Linked DNA regions of Homo sapiens. The protein of the gene in region 6 interacts with the protein of the main gene of each other region in a biochemical or structural test. Each region holds a gene or a part of one and is shown on either strand. Other genes may lie near its edges. The genes, in order: BCAR1, MET, GAB1, PLEK2, ERBB4 and INPPL1.

What was found.
Region 1: the proteins of INPPL1 (region 6) and BCAR1 form a complex in vitro, tested with the Homo sapiens proteins (one study listed by BioGRID).
Region 2: the proteins of INPPL1 (region 6) and MET form a complex in vitro, tested with the Homo sapiens proteins (one large-scale study listed by BioGRID and IntAct).
Region 3: the proteins of INPPL1 (region 6) and GAB1 form a complex in vitro, tested with the Homo sapiens proteins (one large-scale study listed by BioGRID and IntAct).
Region 4: the proteins of INPPL1 (region 6) and PLEK2 form a complex in vitro, tested with the Homo sapiens proteins (one study listed by BioGRID).
Region 5: the proteins of INPPL1 (region 6) and ERBB4 form a complex in vitro, tested with the Homo sapiens proteins (one large-scale study listed by BioGRID).

Annotation. Positions count from the first base shown.
Region 1 is NC_000016.10:75,227,681-75,231,152, reverse strand, and holds the end of BCAR1 (breast cancer anti-estrogen resistance protein 1), read left to right. Parts: intron 1-1,129; coding exon 1,130-1,642; 3' UTR 1,643-2,972; downstream 2,973-3,472. UniProt on the Homo sapiens protein: Docking protein which plays a central coordinating role for tyrosine kinase-based signaling related to cell adhesion. Implicated in induction of cell migration and cell branching. Involved in the BCAR3-mediated inhibition of TGFB signaling.
Region 2 is NC_000007.14:116,699,696-116,703,195, reverse strand, and holds part of MET (hepatocyte growth factor receptor isoform b preproprotein), read right to left. Parts: coding exon 2,912-3,500; intron 1-2,911. UniProt on the Homo sapiens protein: Receptor tyrosine kinase that transduces signals from the extracellular matrix into the cytoplasm by binding to hepatocyte growth factor/HGF ligand. Regulates many physiological processes including proliferation, scattering, morphogenesis and survival.
Region 3 is NC_000004.12:143,409,876-143,413,375, forward strand, and holds part of GAB1 (GRB2-associated-binding protein 1), read left to right. Parts: intron 1-3,500. UniProt on the Homo sapiens protein: Adapter protein that plays a role in intracellular signaling cascades triggered by activated receptor-type kinases. Plays a role in FGFR1 signaling. Probably involved in signaling by the epidermal growth factor receptor (EGFR) and the insulin receptor (INSR).
Region 4 is NC_000014.9:67,405,666-67,409,165, reverse strand, and holds part of PLEK2 (pleckstrin-2), read left to right. Parts: intron 1-3,500. UniProt on the Homo sapiens protein: May help orchestrate cytoskeletal arrangement. Contribute to lamellipodia formation.
Region 5 is NC_000002.12:211,384,303-211,387,802, forward strand, and holds part of ERBB4 (receptor tyrosine-protein kinase erbB-4 isoform JM-a/CYT-1 precursor), read right to left. Parts: intron 2,849-3,500; coding exon 2,551-2,848; intron 1-2,550. UniProt on the Homo sapiens protein: Tyrosine-protein kinase that plays an essential role as cell surface receptor for neuregulins and EGF family members and regulates development of the heart, the central nervous system and the mammary gland, gene transcription, cell proliferation, differentiation, migration and apoptosis.
Region 6 is NC_000011.10:72,234,767-72,237,206, reverse strand, and holds part of INPPL1 (phosphatidylinositol 3,4,5-trisphosphate 5-phosphatase 2), read right to left. Parts: intron 2,092-2,440; coding exon 2,004-2,091; intron 1,912-2,003; coding exon 1,756-1,911; intron 1,533-1,755; coding exon 1,454-1,532; intron 1,362-1,453; coding exon 1,221-1,361; intron 84-1,220; coding exon 1-83. UniProt on the Homo sapiens protein: Phosphatidylinositol (PtdIns) phosphatase that specifically hydrolyzes the 5-phosphate of phosphatidylinositol-3,4,5-trisphosphate (PtdIns(3,4,5)P3) to produce PtdIns(3,4)P2, thereby negatively regulating the PI3K (phosphoinositide 3-kinase) pathways.

The DNA.
Region 1 (3,472 bases), on a different chromosome or scaffold from region 6:
TTCACTTCAGCCTGGGCGATAGAGCAAGACTCCATTTAAAAAAAAAAAAAAAAAGATTAGCCTGGGTGACAGATCAAGACTCCTTCTTTATAAAAATAAAAATAGTATTGAAAAAAAAAAAACCCCACAAAGCTTGTTGCCTGTGCTCTGTCAGGGCTCACTGCAGCCTGGACTTCCCAGACTCAAGTGATTCACCTGCCTCAGCCTCCCAAAGTGCTGGGATCACAGGCATGAGCCACCTCACCCTGCCTCATCAGAGCTTTTCAAAGAAAAAAAGCGGAGTATGTATCTCACTGGCTAAGGGAACGGAGAGATGGAGGATTTCACCAAGTGGCTGCCTAAGGGGGACAGTGCGAGGTTCTAAGTGTTAGGAAGGGGAGGTTTCCTATTGGTTTTGCTCATTGTGGCTTGGATCTTTGCGCCTAGGGTGGCACAGAGCTTACCAGTCCTGAGTCTGGGTGTGGCTGGTCACTTCCGGAGCCAGAGCGGCTCTAGTGAGGACACATTGTCCCCTTCAGCTGACTCCTAGGCACGGGAGTGGAAATGTTAACTTTCGTGTGTGGTTCTGGAAGATGATTTAGCAGAGGTTCTATTTAGGGGCATTGGATTACAGGTGACATCTTCGTTTTTTCTGTTTGATATATTTGAATCTTTTTATAATGTGTATGTTACTTTTGAACTAAGGGGAAAATTTTTTTAACCTTCCATTTTGAAATATTTATAGATTCACAGGAAGTTGCAAAGATAGGGTCGAGGGGTCCCCAGTGCCCTTCAGCCATTTTCCCCAGTGCCACGTCTCAAGTCACGTGGGACAGTACCCAAGCCAGGACGGTGACCCCCCGACCCCAGGCAGCCACTTTTCTGTTGTCCATCTTGTCATTTCAAAAATGTTCAGGGCACGGAGTCTGACCTTTTGAGACTGGTGGAAGGGTAACTGAACAACCTCCAGAAGGCTTGCCATGGTTCCTGGTCCCGTCCCCGGGAGAGGAGACTGCCCGTTTCCCTGCAGTCCCATGCACTCTGAGTAGCGGCCCTTTTAGAGAAGCCCAGCCCAGGGTGCCCAGGTCTCGGCCTGTAGTTCCAACTCACCCGAGAGCCTAACCCTGCTCCTGCTTCCCTCCTGCCCCAGCTGAAGCAGTTTGAACGACTGGAACAGGAGGTGTCACGGCCCATAGACCACGACCTGGCCAACTGGACGCCAGCCCAACCCCTGGCCCCGGGGCGAACAGGCGGCCTGGGGCCCTCGGACCGGCAGCTGCTGCTCTTCTACCTGGAGCAGTGTGAGGCCAACCTGACCACACTGACCAACGCCGTGGACGCCTTCTTTACCGCCGTGGCCACCAACCAGCCGCCCAAGATCTTTGTGGCGCACAGCAAGTTCGTCATCCTCAGCGCCCACAAGCTGGTGTTCATCGGGGACACACTGTCACGGCAGGCCAAGGCTGCTGACGTGCGCAGCCAGGTGACCCACTACAGCAACCTGCTGTGCGACCTCCTGCGCGGCATCGTGGCCACCACCAAGGCCGCTGCCTTGCAGTACCCATCGCCTTCCGCGGCCCAGGACATGGTGGAGAGGGTCAAGGAGCTGGGCCACAGCACCCAGCAGTTCCGCCGCGTCCTAGGCCAGCTGGCAGCCGCCTGAGGGTGGTGACCCCAGGAGGGAGGCAGGGGAGGGGTGCGGCGGTCCCAGCTCCCTGGCTCCCATGTCAAGAGTCGCTGTGCCACAGGCTTAGGGACAGGACCCCAGCTCTGCGTCGGTCCTGGTGCCCTGGATGCCCAGGAATCTGTATATATTTATGGCCGGGCAGGGTGTGGGGCCATGCCTCCTCAGGAGCCGAAGCCCAGGGGCCGGCCAGTGGCCTTCCCCAGCATGCACCACGGGCCCGGGTTGGGTCACCAGACGGGGCTGGAGTGTGAGGGTCCTGCAGCCTGCAGGACCTCGTGCCACCCCGAGGGCTGAGCCTGGTCCCACGAGGGTGCCGTGTCCCCTGACAGGGCCAGTGCAGTTTGGTGTGTCCTCCGCCTTACCAGGAGAAGAACCTGAAGAACTATTTTTCGTTATTGGTTTTCCAATCATTTGACTAAGAGTCTCCATTTAAATAAAGTTTTTAAAAGGAAGAGCAGCTGCCTGAGGGTGGCAGATGAGAGCAGCCCGGGGTGGGTGACGGTTCTGGGGAAGGCACCCGGGGGCAAGGGCCATGCGTGGCATCTCCCGGGAGGGCAGAGGAGGAGTGGGTCTCTCTAGAAGAAAACCAAGGAACGCCGAGGCTGGGTGTCTCCTGGAGGCGGGGTGAGGCCTGCAGCTGGCCACAAGGCCCTGGGAGCCAGGGCAGAGCCTGGGCCCAAGAAAGGGGGCAGTTTCAGAGCTGCAGGGTCTGGGGCCCAGAAAGCACAGCCTGGGCATGGCCCCTGCAACCCTAGGGAGCTGCCACAGTGAGCACCTGCCCATGCCCACAGCTGGCATCTGGAGTGAGGGCAGATTGGGGCAGGAACAGCTGCACAAGGGGACGGGTTCCTGTGAGCCGAGGGCACCGCTGGGGGCTGCATCCAGAGCTCTGCTTAAAAGAATCTCATCCCAGCCTGCGGAACTCCCGAAGTGCACATGGAATTATACCTGGACCTGGCATCTGAGTTGGGAGGGAGGGGCTTGGAGAAGACCCTTGCCCTGGGCAAGTGTGTCCCCCTTCGTGGCTCCCCCACCCAGCAGCCCGCAGCCCAGATGGAAGCTTCAGGGTGCTTGGAACCCCTGGTGCTGCTCCCAGCCCTGACCGTTCTGCATATGAACATGGGCCTTGGTTTCCCCATCTGTATGAAGAAGGGAGTAGGGCTGGGTGATTCGCAAGCCCTCCTGATCTTACCTCTACAGAGGTTGTCCCCGTGACAGCATCTGTCCCCCCACCTCAGCCACATCATGCTCAGCCCACCTGCCTTGGTGAGGACACAGAGGTAAAGGTGTATGCAGTTGCTCTCAATGGCTTTATTTGTGTTTTACACAGATGCGGGGTAGGGGGGGTGGTCTCGGCCTCCACGCCTTCCCAGGCATGAATTTCATGATGCGGGCATCCACGCCTGGTGACAACAGGAGGTGCTGGTGCTGCTCCAGGACACGATGCCCTCCAGAGTCCAGGCTCCATCCTGGCAGGCAAGGGCTGTCGGAGTCACCCTGCAGGAAGGAGAGGAGGTGTCTCCAGGCCTGAACTGGGTGCCAGGGCCTGGGAGACCCTAACCTGGCGGAGTCCAGGGAGGGGTGCGGAGAAATGGCAAGTGTGGGTGCAGGGGCTGTGCCAGGGTCCTGAGGCCTGGGTTCACGTGGCAGCCCCAGCTCTGCCATGCACACTCCTGGAGGGAGCTGGGGCAAGTGGCTTTCATCCATGCCGGGGCGCCATTCATCCCATGAGCTGACGCTTCCAGCTCAGAGGGCTGGGAAGAGGAGGAAGTCCCCAGGCAGCCTCGCCTGCCTGGTTCAGGAAGC
Region 2 (3,500 bases), on a different chromosome or scaffold from region 6:
ACTGGTATTCTATAAGTGGGCATTTGTGGCTTGGGATAAGTTTCCAGAAACAGCATCATATGTGGAGACAAAGAGTTCTGAAGCACAAATAGCTTATGGGTGAAGATGACGAGTACTGGGAATTATCAAATGACTCAAAAGAGGGCTTTTGTGATGTCATCAATATGAGAAGATGCATGTGAAGAGTTTGCATAGACATATTTCATGAAATGTGAGACTGGGAAAAGCAACAAAATATGTGATCCTAAACAAGCAAGTCAGGCCTGGTACACCTGCTGGACCCCTAAAATGTAAAAGGCCCGTCCCTGGCACTCCCATTATCTGATCTTGTGATAGAAACACTTTTTGCACATGGTGGAGAGCTCTTGGAGTGCCAGGAAATCCCTCTTTCAGCAATGTGTCAACACTGAGGACTGGGCAGAAGCATAAGTAGAAAGTTACTGCTGCAGCTCAGCTTTCTTAACCTTGTCCACAAGAGTCCCTTTATAAATGTATTAGAGATGTTAATAACAAAACTACAATATGTGTGTCTTTTCACCAAACTTGATGCCAAAGTAAAAACTCAGTTCCAAGAAATTATTAAAAGGGTCACTTGATTTCTGGCCAAGTAAATCTGCCAAGACAAAATGGAGTCATCTTATTGCTTGAGAGTCCTGCTAAACAGCTTTGATCTTGTAATCATTTTGTTTTTTTTGTGTGTGATGAATGGCTCTAGGTGCCTTCATTTTGGCATTAAGCTAGGAAATGATTATATGCTCATTATTGGAACAATCTGAGGTCTGGATGGGGTATATGGAGAGAGAGAATATGTGTAGTCTCAGTCTCAGAAGAATTTTGATCTTTGTAACCAGAGAAGATAAACAGGCAAATAAATAGAGGAGGTTTGAAGGTATTTGTCTATGGAATTTGGCCAGTGTAAAAGTTGGCTTCCTTTGTAAGAAGACTATGTTGGCAAGTTCCATCTTGTTTCCCGCAAGAATTTTTGTGATGGGAGTGATAATGGTTTCAGGTGTGGCTAGTGCATTTTGGGAATTTTTCCTGGGCGATAAAACTGACCTGAATTTCATTGGCTAATCCTGTCTGTTTGTCTCCCTTGGAACACTAAAAAAGTCAAAAGGGTAGGATAAAATTCAGATGTGTTTTGAGAATTTCTAGAATTGATAAGTATTTTTACATCTAAGGATTGAAATGTACAAAATTTAAAAAATGAGATATCAATATACCTTTATGAATTCTCTTTTTAATTTTTTTCTTGCCCTACCCTTCTTTTTAATTTTTAACAAAGAAAGATTTAAATAGCAAATCCATGTGCTCTAGGAGCCCTGGAGGAATTCCTAATAGACTCTTTTAAAACTTGTGTCTCAGAATCAACTTACTGGATGCAGAAAAATATCTTCTCTGTAATGCTATTAATATTATATTTTTATTTCCTAATCCCAGGTTTCTGAAAATCATTTTGTTTCCTTTCATTCTTTTGTAGTTTCTAGTAAAGAAAAGGGGGAGCTTCATAAGGAATTCTATTGCTTCTTTGCAACATATATTAAATGTATGTAGGGGGAAATAAGTCTTAGTTGGAATGTATGTGCATTTATGTTATGTATATTCATAGACTTTGGAAGAGAGAGGAAGGAAGTTTTGTTTTTAGTTCACCAAAAGATGAACTGACTTTCTTGGAAGTATTTTCCTAGCATCATAAAAAGTTAACTATAGTTTCCATCTAGAGAAGTGTCCCAGACATTTCAGCAAAAGTCAACCAAATGTCTCTGAATTCATATGCCTTTACCCCTCAGCAAATTATATACTTTATGCTACTGAGGACATGTTTAATGTTCTACCTGATTGCAATTATAACCTTTATATCTTAGATTGAAACCTGTTAAAGTAAGTGAAACATACCATGCCAAAGTCAAACTGTCTTTAGAAAAGCTATACTATTTGTTCATTCAATGATGGTCATAGTCAGGTCCGTATTCCAAATCTGGCCCAGATCAAGAAACTCAAAGCCACAATAAACACTCAGACCAGGTGATCAACTGACTAGCAGGATAAATCTCCAGGTATAGCTGGTAGCTGTTACTATATTTAAATCACAGCACCAAGAATATCTCTAACAGCTCCTAAGAAAATACCATTTCATATAAGTATAAATAATCATCAACCAAAATATTTATGCTTATAAATAACAAATACCAACCAGGTAAAGTGCCAAGCTAGAACTTGGTAGACACAAGTCTTTTCCAGAAGGAAGTCCATGATTAAAGTCAAGCTCTAAAGGAAGGACTTGGGAACAAACATTTCCTCTCTACTCTTACAGGTTATTTAGAGAAGTATACGAGCTCATTTAAAAATGTTTTATTTACCAGCATTTCAGAAGAGGTTTTTTAAAGTTAAGTTCCTTTAAGTAATGTCAAGAATATAGATTAATCAGTTGTGTATCAGTGAGAGAATATAATCTCATAAGGAACAATTCTTTAAGGCATACAAATTAGCTTGAACATCTTGTAAATGTTGCAGAGATTATATAGAAATGTCAATAATTATGTTTTATGGGAATTGCTGCTGTGATAAAAATCTGTGTAAATCTGATAAAATCTGTGTAAATCTGATAAAATCTGTGTAAATATAAAAAAGCTTATATGGGAAATAACTTTAATATAATCTGAAATGTCACGAACATGCAAATCTGAATTGTAAAAACATTTTTCTTTTAGTTACCATTTACATTTTAAAGATATAATTTTAGGTGTAAATGAAGATTCAATTCCTCAATTTTCTTGGAAAAAATCTGCAACTATTTTGGATAAACACCATTTACAAAGCACAAAAGAAGCCCTGGATATTCTTTTTGAGACTGATACTTATTTCTAATTTATACCTCACAGTTTATAAGTGGGGAACTGATGTGACTTACCCTATTAAAGCAGTGCTCATGATTGGGTCCGTAAAAATGCTGGAGACATCTCACATTGTTTTTGTTGACGATCTTGTTGAAGAAGTCGTTGACATATTTGATAGGGAATGCACACATGGCAGATCGATCCATTGGTTCGGCAGAATCTGGCTTGCTTTGTGCGAACACCCCGAAAAGAATGTCATCATTCAGGCTGGCTCCTATTTGTCTAGCAAGCTGGGCCCCAGGCTTGCTGACATACGCAGCCTGAAGTATATTAAACACTTCCTTCTTTGTGGATCTCTTTTTTCTCTTTTCTGTGAGAATACACTCCAGAGGCATTTCCATGTAGGAATGCAATCCAGAGTTTATGGAACAGAACCTGATTATTCTTGTGTGAAAAGTCTGAGCATCTAGAGTTTCCCTTTGGACCGTCAAGAAGTAAATAAAATTGTTGCTTTCAAAGGCATGGACATACTTAATGGGGTAAGAATCTCTGAACTCAGGTAAAACATCAATGTAGGACTGGTCCGTCAAAAACATAAAACCATCTTTCGTTTCCTTTAGCCTTCTCACTGATATCGAATGCAATGGATGATCTGGGAAATAA
Region 3 (3,500 bases), on a different chromosome or scaffold from region 6:
TTTTGTTTTTGAAATTTTACTTTAAAGAGCAATATAATCCTATTGATTGGATCTATGGTTCTTAATCATGGTGGCACATTAGAATCATCTGTTGAGTGTTTAAACCTGCCTATTCCAATCTTCACCCCACCCCCATACACTACAATTTAGTTGGCTTAAGGTGAAACCCCAAGCTTTTTTTTTTTTTAAGCAAAGCTCTCCGGATATTTCTAATGTGCATTCAGGGCAGAGAACCCATGGACTACCCCCGACCTCTTCTCTGATCTTCTCTCTTGCCTGCCCATATATTGGCCACTTCCTCAATAATTAGCTCTTCCAGTAAAGGTACAGGGAAAAGATGAGGGAATTTTGGCAAGCATCACACCAGGCATGTGAGCTGTCATTTATACCACAGAGAACTCACAAAACAGGGTGTACAGCAGTTACAATGTTTTTCTTTAAAGCTGAAGCCATTTGCTAGTTAGGTTAATTAGGCAAAATTTGTGAATTTGTTAGTAACGTTACAGCCATATAGGCAAAATTTGTGAATTTGTTAGTAATATTACAGCCATTAATGGCTTGGGGTTAATCCAGGTTAAAAAATGTTTCCTTCCCACCAAATAGTGGGACTCCCATCTGTACTTTCTTGCCAGTATGTACATACCCATACTCTAGGGTGTGTGATAAGCCTGCCTTAAGACCTAGCTTCAGTGTGACAGTTCTACAGGTGAGCATATCCAATTTGCTAAATACAGGAAATGTTTAAAAGAATAGTTCTTTTAAAATGATGTTTAAAAACATCTCTCTTATGTCTGTAGAGTTTTAAAAACAAATTAATTTGTTTACACACCTCTATGCTTGCCTGACCAATTCTTGAATGGGCTGGGCAGATCGCAGTTATATCACTATCCCTGCAATGCATAAATAGTATGAGAACTTCTGTATTTTTAATCCTTGCCTCAAACATTTTGTATTGCGTATTTAGCAGACATTGACTGAGCACCTCCTTGGCGCTAGGCAATGGGAAAGGAAAGAAGAAAGGTTAAAATGGCTCCAGCCCTCAGTACATTCAAATGCACAGATGTCAAATGATTTAGGAAAAAGGTGGAAATGGAGAGCTCAGAGCCAACTCGGATGGTGCCCCGAAGAGGGCTGAGCTAAATCTAGGGGGTAGATTTTGTGCCAAGGGGTGAGAGGCAGGACAGAGCAGAGTGTTTGGGAAACTACAAGTATTTCCAATGTGGTTGGAAGGCAGAGGGGCAAGAAGTGACGCTGGAGAGATTTAGGGGTGGAGATGGGGCGGGAGTTGATTGGAGGGTCCTGTGTACCCTGCCAGAGTTTGGGTTTTATCCTGTAGGCACAGGGGGCAGTCACTGAGCATAGGGAATTGGCTTCAGAATTTGGTACTTTTAAGTTACCCCAAAATCCAGACTTAACTGTTGACTTCTTGTTAACAAATTATTTGTTCAACTCAAAATTGGAGTGACTATTGCATATAAGAAATGGCTACAAAATAAGTTTTTACATAGTCCTTCTCAACTATGCAGACATCTTGCAAATTTCAGCTTCTTCATTACCTGCTCGTAATGGAAGTCTAGTCGTTAAAATGATTTTTTGTGTGAATTTCTTTTAAAATTACTTTGAGTATTTGGTTTTGAAGGTTTCTAGAAAGCCTGTCCTTTTTGTCTGCTCCTGCTCTGCAGGATTGGCAAGGCAGTGTACGGCTTTCTCTGGAGCTACCAAGGCAGCAAGGATAAAAATAGGACAAACTTTAAGAATCTCAGATATTTTCAGATAACAAAGACTGATTTATGTGGGCCCGTTTTGTGCTCTGACAAAACATAGAGACGCTTTTGTGCTGTGATTAGCAAGGGTGCTGATGTCAGTTCTCTTGTCGAGCATCAAGCTTTATTCTGTGGCTAAATTGTGCTTTGTACCATAATCCAGAGAACCTTTGTATCTGCCTTATTAAAGTGTGTAGTTTATGTAATTGCTTTTGTTTTCCAGCTTAATCTGTGCCAGATTCAATGAGGGTGACTCATTTTGTGACTGAGACAAACATTCACATTTGGACCATGTTAAAAATAAATAAATAAATGGCAGGTGCTGCTTGGCTAAATTCTGTGTTTTAATGCTGTAATTTCCTGCCGTAAGGGTTCACGTCTTGTATAATGTCTACTCAGCCTCTGTAATCACTAGCCCAATATATCTAATGCACCTCAATTCATTGCTACTCATTTCTTGATTATTTATTTTAGTTCCTAAGGGCTTTTTGAATTGTAACAATGTGATTTCAACAGGGAAGCCAAGGAATGGATGGGGGGGAGCCACAGTTAGCCGGAAAACAAAGAGTGACACATAAGCTGTAGCAAAAGGACATGTTCTGTGCTTTTCTGTTTTTGCCATTTTCCCAAGATGTTTTGTGCATGTGTTTTGGTAAAGTTGTCTTAGTTATGTTTATTTTATTATGTATATGTTCAGTATTGGAGCTCTTTTTCTCAAGTGGAAGATGCTTTGAAAGCACTCTCTTCATTGTGGCCCATGTATCAAATCTAATCTCAAAAATTTTACAAGTCTACTCTCTCAGGAGAATTCTGTTTATTTATTGTACAGATATGCTATGTACTAGGCACTGTGCTATGGCAAATAAAGCAGGCGTGGTCACTATCTTCTTGAACTTTTCAGTCTGTTTGGGGAGTTACGTACTACACAAATAAATACAAAGAAAAATTGAATTGCAAAATTACACAAATCACTACGTAGGTAAGTAATAGGATCTCTAAAACTATGCTATTAGTTTACACTGGAGTTGGTTGCATTGAGGGTGGTCAGGGAAGAGAAGCCCTGAAGGTTGGAGTTGGCCAGGCAAAAAGTGAGGGAAAGAATATAATGTATTTAGGGGAAAACATGTGCAAAGTCCCTGAGGCAGGTAAGAGTTTAGCCTCCTATAAACCCTATTATTGGAGGGGGAAAAGTGACAGTTGATGGAAATTGAGAGAAAAAAGACAGGAAACTGTATTTAAAAGATGAACTATACAAGCATAGCAATATGGTACTATTTATTAATAGTATAGGGGCAAATGACACTCTATACAGTGCAACAGCCTCTGAGAGTCTCCTGAAGTGCAGTATAGAAATGGATGCTTACAATACTTAGTCTGAATCATTGGGGAATGGATTATGTTTGGTGAAGTATGTAGTAAAGCATTTTAGAAAGATTTGCGTGCAAGACAATAAAGTTTTAAAAAGTCATTTCTGTATTTAAAGATGAAGCTTCACTATCTGGAGAAATCACTTACTGAATGATATGATTTCTTGAGGGCCCTGCATAAATAACATCATATTTTATATTCTTTTGCTTTACTTCTGCATTACTTTTTAAAGCTTACTGCTTGAGAGGGAAGTATCCATAGAGGGATAATTTTACTAAGAGATGATATTTATTTATTTTGCAGTAAGTAGATGCATATTCAATGAATGGATTTTTATAGTCCAGAAAACAGTGCTAAAATCATGTGAAT
Region 4 (3,500 bases), on a different chromosome or scaffold from region 6:
GCTCAAGCAATCCTCCTGCCTCAGCCTCCCTAGTAGCTGGGACTACAGGTACATGTTACCACACCCAGCTAATGTTTTGTTTTTTGCTTTTTTTTTATTTCTTTTTTTTTTTTTATAGCGACAATGTCTCACCATGTTGCCCAGGCTGGTCTTGAACTCCTGGGCTCAAGCGATCCTCCCACCTTGGCCTCTCTAAGTGCTGGGATTATAGGCGCCTGGCCAATAAAGGATCATTTATGTGGCGAAAAAACTGAAAACCACCTGTCTGTCCCCACCAAATGACTAATTAAATTATGGTTATGCAGATGTTGAATATGTTTATAGTATTAAAATCCGAAGAGTAAAGTGATAAAATGTATGAGTAAAGAAAAAATATGCGTAGAAGAAAAAGAGCAGAAGGAGTTCTGGAGGCTAGAGGTGCAAAATCAAGGTGTTGCCAGGGCCGTGCTGCCTCTGAAACTTGTAGAGGAGGATCCTTCCTAGCTTCTGGTGTTTGCAGGCAACCCTTGGCATTCCCTGGCTTCTAAATACTTCAGTGCAACCACTGTCTCTGTTGTCACGTGACCATCCTCTCCCTATGTGTCTCTTAGTGTCCAAATTTTCCTCTTCCTATAAGGACACCAGTCAATTGGATTAGTGCCCATTCTAGTCTAGGGTGACTTCATTTTAACTTGATTACATCTGCAAAGACCCTATTTTCAAATAACATCACACTTACAGGTCCAGAGGTTAGGACTTCAGTGTATCTTTTTTGGGGAAATACAATTCAACCCATAGCAAGTATCATCCCATCTTTGTTTTTTCTTTTTTTATTTTATTTTATTTTATTTTATTTTATTTTATTTTATTTTATTTTATTTTATTTTATTTATTTATTTTGAGACCGAATTTTGCTCTTGTTGCCCAGGCTGGAGTGCAATGGTGCAATCTCGGCTCACTGCAACCTCTGCCTCCCAGGTTCAAGTGATTCTCATGCCTCAGCCTCCTGAGTAGCTGAGATTACAGGCATGCACCACCACGCCCGGTTAATTTTGTATTTTTAGTAGAGACGTGGTTTCTCCGTGTTGGTCAGGCTGGTCTTGAACTCCCAACCTCAGGTGATCCACCCACCTGGCCTCCCAAAGTGCTGGGATTACAGGTGTAAGCCACCATGCCCGGCCCTCTATTTTATTTTATTTTCAAGAGACAATGTCTCAGTATGTTACCCAGGCTGGAGCACAGGGACTGTTCACAGGTGTGATCATAGTGCATTGCAATGTTGAGCTCTTGAGCTCAAGCGAACTTCCTGGCTCAGCCTCCCAAGTAGCTGGGACTACAAGTACACACCACTGGGCCCAGCTGGCATCTCTGCTTTTCTCAGGGTTATAGAGCCTTGGGCAAGACCTTTCTGTGCCTCTGTTTCCTTATCTTTAAAGTTAGGGGTCTGCCGGGTGTGGTGGCTCACACCTGTAAATTCCAACAATGTGGGAGGCCAAAGTGGGAGGATTGCTTGAGGCCAGGAGTTCGAGAGCAGCCTAGGCAACAAAATGAGAACTCATCTCTACAAAAAATAAAATAATTAGCCAGTCATGGTGGTACTCGCTTGTAGTCCCAGCTGCTTGGGAGGCTGAGATGGGAGAATCGCTTGAGCCCAGGGGTTTGAGGCTGCAGTGAGCTATGATCATGCCACTGCACTCCAGCCTCGGCAACCAAATGAGACCCTGCCTCAAAAACATTTTTTTTAATTAAAAAAAAATAAGGTTAGGGGCTGGGCGTGGTGGCTCATGCCTGTAATCCCAGCATTTTAGGAGGCCGAGGTGGGCAGATCACGAGGTCAGGAGTTCGAGACCAGCCTAGACAACATAGTGAAACCCCATCTCTACTAAAAATACAAAAAATTAGCCAGGTGTGGTGATGGGTGCCTCTAATCCCAGCTACTCGGGAGGCTGAGGCAAGAGAATTGCTTGAATCCAAGAGGTGGAGGTTGCAGTGAGCTGAGATCGCACCACAGCACTCTAGCCCGGGCGACAGTGCAAGACTCCGTCTCAAAAAAAAAGTAATAGTAATAAGGAATAAAGGAGGCTTTTTCCTGGGGTCTCTCCAGCTGTAACATTCTGTGTCTCATAAGCCCATCCCTGAGGTGCCATTCCAGCTTATGGGCCCCTCGTCCTTCTCTCCAAAAGGGATCCAGGGAACTCCAAGCACCCCCTGCTTCAGCTGGCCTCTGGTTCCAGCCAGCGGATTACAGACAAGAAACCTAAAAGAGAAGCTACTCTCTGCCCAGGGACAAGTGTCCAGGTGGAGGGAGGCCTGGGTTCTTCTTCAGCATACCATTGTGTTATCGGCCTGTGACTCACTTTGCCTGGTGATTTTAGACCAGTCACTATGCCCTCTGTGCATGGTGTGGTTTATCTGTAGAGCAGAACCGGTGGTGCTTTCCTGCCAGGTTCATGGACTATTCCAGCAGCCTCCAGCTGAGCTCCCCACTCCAGTCTCACCTGCTTCCTTTGGCTATTCTGTTCTGCTGCTGTGTTCGGAGTGATAGGTTTAACATGAGAACGTAAGCTTGCTGTCTTTCTGCTTAAAATCCTCCAAGGACTCCCCTTGAAGATCAAACTTTGTGGCACAGAACCTGAAGCCCTTGCCACCTTGGTCCCCATCACCTCCCCTATGGAGCCCAAGCCATATAGAACCACGGGGAGTCTCCCCAAAGTGGCAGGGGTCCTATGCTCACCCCTCCTTGACTTCCTGACCTGCCTAACTCCACACAACCAGGAAGACTGAGCCCCAGTATCACTCCTGGGAATGTACCTAACCCCACCTCAGCCTCTCCTGAGCTCCTCCTTGGGGTTTGTATCATGCCCTATATTAATTATTGATTGTTGTATAACAAATTATCCCAAAAGTTAGCATTTTTTTTTTTTTTTTGAGATGGAATCTTGCTCTTTCACCGAGGCTGGAGTGCAGTGGCGCCATCTTGGCTCACTGCAACCTCCTCCTCCTGGGTTCAAGTGATTCTTGTGTCTCAGCCTCCTGAGTAGCTGGGACTACAGGCACCCACCACCACGCCCAGCTAATTTTTGAATTTTTAGTAGAGACGGGGTTTAACCTTTTTGGCCAGGCTGGTCTCAAACTCTTGACTTTAAGTGATCTACCTGCCCTCAGCCTACCAAAGTGCTGGGATTACAGGTGTGAGCCACCGTGCCTGGCCAAGCATCTTAAAACAACAAGATTTGTCATCTCACTGTTTCTGAGGGTCAGATATCCAGTAACAGCGTAGCTGCAAGACTGGCTCAGGGTCTCTCGTGAGGCTGCAGCCAAGAGTGACAGTCACCTGAAGGCTTGACTGGCTGTAGGGTCCAATTCTGAGCTCACCTACATGGCTGTTGGCTGGAGGCCTCAGCTCCTCACCTCTCAATTGGGCTGCTTAGGATATGGCAGCTAGCTTTTCCCACAGCAAATAATCAGAAAGAGAGAGAGGGAGAGAGGCAGAGGGAGAAAGAGAGAGAATGCCAATAAGA
Region 5 (3,500 bases), on a different chromosome or scaffold from region 6:
AAATTTTTCTTTCTTTCTAATTGCATTTGTCTCTTCTGCATATGGGGCTGGTTGTTTCAATGTTTTTGTTTTCTAAAAGTTATTTATATTAGGAAATAAGACTACCTATTAGGATTAAATAGTCTTTAAATATACAGACAACTTAACTTCTATAAAGGATATTGAAAAAACAAGAATCTATAGCTGAGTTCCATGCCAAGATGAATAGATGGAGTGAAGAAATCATGTTTTTTAGTCTCTATGGTTTGCTATGATTGCCTATACTGGTAACAAGGATTTAATTGGAGATGCTTCTGAAAAAGGTTTTACACATGGAAAAGAAAGCATCAAAGGAAAAAAATTCAACTAAAAAAGCAAATCTAACAGATAGCTAACATGCCTCTAGTTGACCTGCTTGACATTACATATACTTCTACTTAATAGTAAAGTATAATTATAATATTTCCATTGACCAATCATAATCACAAAGTAGCAAACTATCAGCTTGAATTATATAAAATAAAATAAATTTTGTATATTGAAACCAGTCAATTAGTGCCTATTTTGTACGGATCAATCTAATAAATCCATCTAGTATAGGTATTGGCCTAAAAGGTGCTAATAATTATCACCATTCTCCTGAAGCTTAATTCCACATCTATGTCTATAATATAGACTGCACATAGACATAAACACGCATGTATTGTAAGTCCTCTGACAGTCCTCTCTTTTACTATATACACAAAGCCCTAAGCTATTCCTATTTTGAATTCAAGGCATGAAGAGGGCACAATTCTTTGTTGAGAGGCCATTCTGAAACAAACTTTCTGTCTTTTATCCTTAGCCCAATAAGTAGAGAGAAAAATCCTATTAAGTGAGGATTATTTTTCTCCAAATATATATATACAGAATAGGTAAGTATTTAGCATCATTTATTCAACTTAAAGGGCAGTAATGAATATCCCACTATCATATATAGGCCTTTACAAGACACTATCATTTCATCCTCCCAATTCTGTGAAAAAGAAGTACAAGACTTATTTTTCCAGCTTTGTAGACAGAAAAATGAGATTAAATGATGTGTGCAGGATACAATTAGTGTTGGGATAGAATTCAGGTCTTCTAACTCCTCTTGCATAATCTTCTTATTCTACTGCACTGTTTTTTATTATTGCCCCTGCAGGAGTTGGGTGAACTTTATGCTTAGTAACAAGTTTTAATTTGACAAGTGTATGAAAACATTTATAAGGAATGCAGAATTTGGTCTCTCTTACCAGATTCCTTAAACTTCTTAATTGAAAGAATAGGAATGTCTACACTAAAATTCTGTACTCTCTGAGTACGAGGTTAGACTATAGCAACCTTTTATAGAAACGGAGCTTAGTGTTCAGAGATAAAATCTGAGAATACAGTGTGACTCTATAGGGTGACTTGCTTTTCTCTTCACCTTACCTTTCCTCAATGCAATCTACTTATATATTGTCCTCATGCAAACTTATATAGCTGTCCAATAACTTTACGGTTGGAGTGAAAATCTCCCCAGAAAAGATTCTTCTTTGGGGTGAATCTGCCAAGTCTTCACAACGTCTACATTTGTGTCATTACTAGGCTACTATGAGCATCCAAACTCTTCATTACATTTTTATATGTATAGAAGTTTTAGATATGTAAAAATTTTATCTAGACAGATATATTTTAAAAGGTTATTTACAATTAGAGATCTCTAAATTTTACTTTAAAGGAGAGAACATAACCATATACCAGGCCCTTCTCAGAGTCTTAAAATGTAGTTTACTGTTGACACTAAAGACTGCGAGAGACATGATCATCATTTTTTAATAACAATCATCTATCTTCTCTGTTGTGATACTGTTAGCATAGAAGAAGAAAGGCTGTTTTGTTGCAAAATTGAAGCATTATTTGATTTGGGTGCTTAACATTTCTACTACTAACTTTACAAAATTATTGTTATGCTTTGTAAAACCACAGATTATTATTTTCAAATCTTGGTGGTATGCTTGTAAGTATATACAGGGTCAAACCTTTAATTTTTGAAAAACGTCATATAAGAACATAATATTTTCCTATAATAAACTAGGTTGTTTAAATGTCATCATTTAAATGAGTCAAACAAATCTTTTATTAGTGCCATCAAAAGCATCAGGCACTTTTGCCAACAATACCAGTCTTTCTGATCTCCGCAATTAAGTCCAATAAAGCTATGGTCCTGACACTTTGTAGTATGCTACTTCATTCAAATATTTCAACAAAATATGTTTAGAATAGTGCTTCTCAAGACTGATTGCTGTATGCAGATAGCCTGGGGATCTTGTTAAAATCCAGATTCCTATTCAGACGGGGCCTGCCTGAGATTCTGATTTATATAAATAATAATAAATAATGTGGATGCTGCTGATTCAGGGACCATACTACAAGTAGCAGTAGCCTAGGCCTTTACTGGATCACAAATGTTGTGCTGGTCAGCTATCTGGCAATTTCTATTCTGTACTTTGTTTATCTTGATGGAAGTGAACTTCGAATGGCGATCGTTTCTGAATAATCAGTTCATACCTTGTTTGGGTTTGTCTCGCATAGGAGTCATGTAACCTTCCTCATCCAGCTCTCCTCGTGGGCTCCGTTCTGGGGCAAACACGGTGGGGTCAGCACTGTACCTCTGGGTGCTACTGTCCTCTTGGACATGGGGTGCCACTGGCTTGCGTAGGGTGCCATTACAGCAGGAGTCATCAAAAATCTCAGCAGTAGCACCCTGTGCCACAGGAGCTTCTGGAATTGTGCTAGTTGGGGCTCTGTAGGGCACAGACACTCCTTGTTCAGCAGCAAAACCTCCATCTCGGTATACAAACTGGTTCTGTTAATAAGAGAAACATATGTGGAGAGAAGGCGTTGTTAGAAATAGTTTAAAAATGAATGTTAATAGCCACAAGGATATCAAAGCCAGTCTTTCAGAGAATAGTCATAGTATTTACTGGTTTTTTTTCCCCTAGTGGCTAATGGAGTTACAAACTATAAACACCTAAAATTTCCACTTTTCTTAAAAGATAAATCATCAGAAAATAATTTTGAAATACACATTCTAGTTTTATTAACCAACTGAAACATATTCTAATAAAATGTATTTGATGCCCTTTTCCCACAAGTGCCTATATTTAATACAAATTTCAAAGTGAATTTTTATGATAAATGCAAGTGTCATTAATTATAGACAGTTGTCATTAAGAATAGAAGTACATGGATATATTTTGAATAATCCTATGTCTTTATTCCCTTCGAAAATTCTGTGGTTATTATGAATTTGAGGCTCTAGTACCTAACTAGAGGATCATCACTATAATTCTGACTTTTTAGTACATGACCAATAATCAGGGAAGTAAAGATCACCTCCACATCCAGAAGCATAATTTATGTGCCCAGGTAAATCCTTCAGATAAAAATTGAAAGCTACTGTTGATGCATGATATCTCAATTTCGGATTATCAGCTGAGATAAAAACACATCTACAA
Region 6 (2,440 bases):
CGTAGTAGGCAGGGTTATTGAAGCTGTTCTTGGGTGGGGGGGCCGCCACCCCTTCTGGTTCAGGAGCTCCCTCTGGCTTCAACCTGGGTGTGGAAGCAGAACGACTAAGCCAGGATCCAGGAACCCAGGTCTAAGGCAGTGGAAGCAGTGGAAGGAGAACTAGACGGGAGTCAGAAAGTCCCCTGGTCCTAGACTTTCTCATGACCTTGAGCACATCACCTGCCCTTAGTTTCTTCATCTCTAAAGGTCAGAGGGAGGATAACCCTTTGAATGGATAACCCTACAATCCCTTGCCTCACTTGCTAAGATACTTAGATCTTTCATGACTTTATCTGTAGCTGTGAAACCCAAGCTAAATGGGTCAGAATAGAGGTGCCAGAAGACAGGGCAAGAAGCCTCCAATGAGAGGCCAGGTTTGGAAAGCCTCTTGAGGCACCCACAGTCAATCCGCTGCAGAATCTTTCTCAGAGATTCAGGTGGGTCTTATTCAAGCCTAGGGATAAAACCGGGGTGACTGACAACAGCTGAAGATGAGTGAAAAAGCACCAAACTGTACCTAGGAGTTTATGTAAGTTTAAGCAACAATCGGATATAATTAGAAAGCAAGCCTCACTTTCCCAAAGTGTGACACAGAGCACTAATTCCCCAGAACGTTAATAGTTACTACATGGAAAATAAGTTTCCTGGCCCATTAAGTTTGGGAAACTATATTAAACAGAGCTGAAAAGAGGTTTCCTTCCTGTCCACATGCTCAGAGCTTTTGCTAATACTAACATGCACTGGGAATGTCTAAGAAAAGAATCTAGAAAAAGCATTTCCCAAACTCATTTGACCACAAACCCATTTCAACTGGGGCCTCTTGCAGGACAGAGTTCCAAAGAAGGTACCCTGGGAAATCCCAGGCCGAGCCATGTGCCTCCTCCAAATAGAAGGCTCAAGCTAGGTCTGTTTACATGGAGGGAGCTGTCTTAGAAACAATTTCGCATTCCATTTTTAAAGGCAGAATTGAGAGGAAAGGCTGACTGCTCCCTTTGACTCAGAGCCACAGCTAAGGGTGGCCTGGCTGGCCACAGGCATAAGGCCATGGCAGCTCCAACCACAGAGTGGCAGGGCACCTAAGCAGCTGATGATCTCCAGGCCAACCCTGAGACCCTGCAGGGGATAGTGATGGATAGAGGTGGGTGGGGGAAGGGGGGGCGGTGACAGGTTCCTCCTCTCACCTGGGGGTCAAGGGCTCCTCCCGGGGAGCTGCTCGGGGTGGGGCTGGGGGCCTCCCCGTTGGTGGCGGTTTCTCTGGTTCTTCAAATAACCTGGAGAGCGGGCAGGAGGCCTCTGTGAAGGCTGGCTTGCGGCTCCCTGACCTGCCAGGGATGCACAGGAGAGAGATGAAGTGGGGTTGACCAGATGCCCCCAGGTACCCTTTCATATGACATTCAACACAGCCCTAGCTCACCTGGGCTCCTGGCTCCCTCGGGACACAGAGGGGGCTTTGCTCTTTGCTCCTGCCTCATCCTTATCAATGCTGATCCACTCTGAGGGGGCAGGAAGGGAGACTCAGAGGAGACCTGGGCTCCTGGATCCCACAGACACCCAGTGGGCCTGCCAGCCCTTTCCCAGCTATGCCTTGGGGCAGGACTATTCCCAGCTGTGGCTGCAGAACCTCCAGGTATCCCAGAGATTCCAACATGCCCCCCGCACCCTGCCCTCCTTGATCTGTTCACACCACCCTATCTCATGTCCCAGTGGAGTCCCCACCGTAGAGCCGCTCACGGGTGCCCAGGCGCTCCGTGGGCACCCGCACCTTCATGGAGCCTCTGATATTGCCTGTCTCCTCGCCACGGTGGGATAGGAAGGTCAGGAACTGTTGGGCCGTGCTGCCGATCATGGATTTGAGTGCAACCACACACTCCCCTGAGGAGCAGATGGGACAAACCAGCAAATTACCAAGCTAATCTAGGGCCCTGTCTGGCTTCCTGTTCCCCTCAGCACCCCTCACCCCTCACCATAGGATTCATAGCCATCCATGGACTTGACTGTGAGCAGGAGGTGCTGGTCCTGCAGGTACTCGATATCAGCCAGAATTGGTTTGAGCTGGGAAGCAGGGAGGCCCAGTGAGGAACAAAGCCCCGCCACTTCCTCCTGCCCCTCCTACGCGCTGCCCCCTGACACCACTCAATCCCCACCCTCAGGTCATCTGTGCTCACTCACACTCAACTCTTCAGAGAAGAGCCAAATCCTTAATGCAGAAGACACAGCCCTATACAGGCCTTTTACAGCACCTAGCATCACTGTAACTAATTAATTTTCTCAATAGCTAACACAGGACCTGACATCTAGCAAAAGCTCAAGAAGCATCTCCTGAATGAATGAACAAACTGCAACAAGGTTCCACACTCCCAAAATAAAGCAAACGCCTTTATCCTCACTCATGCCCATGCCC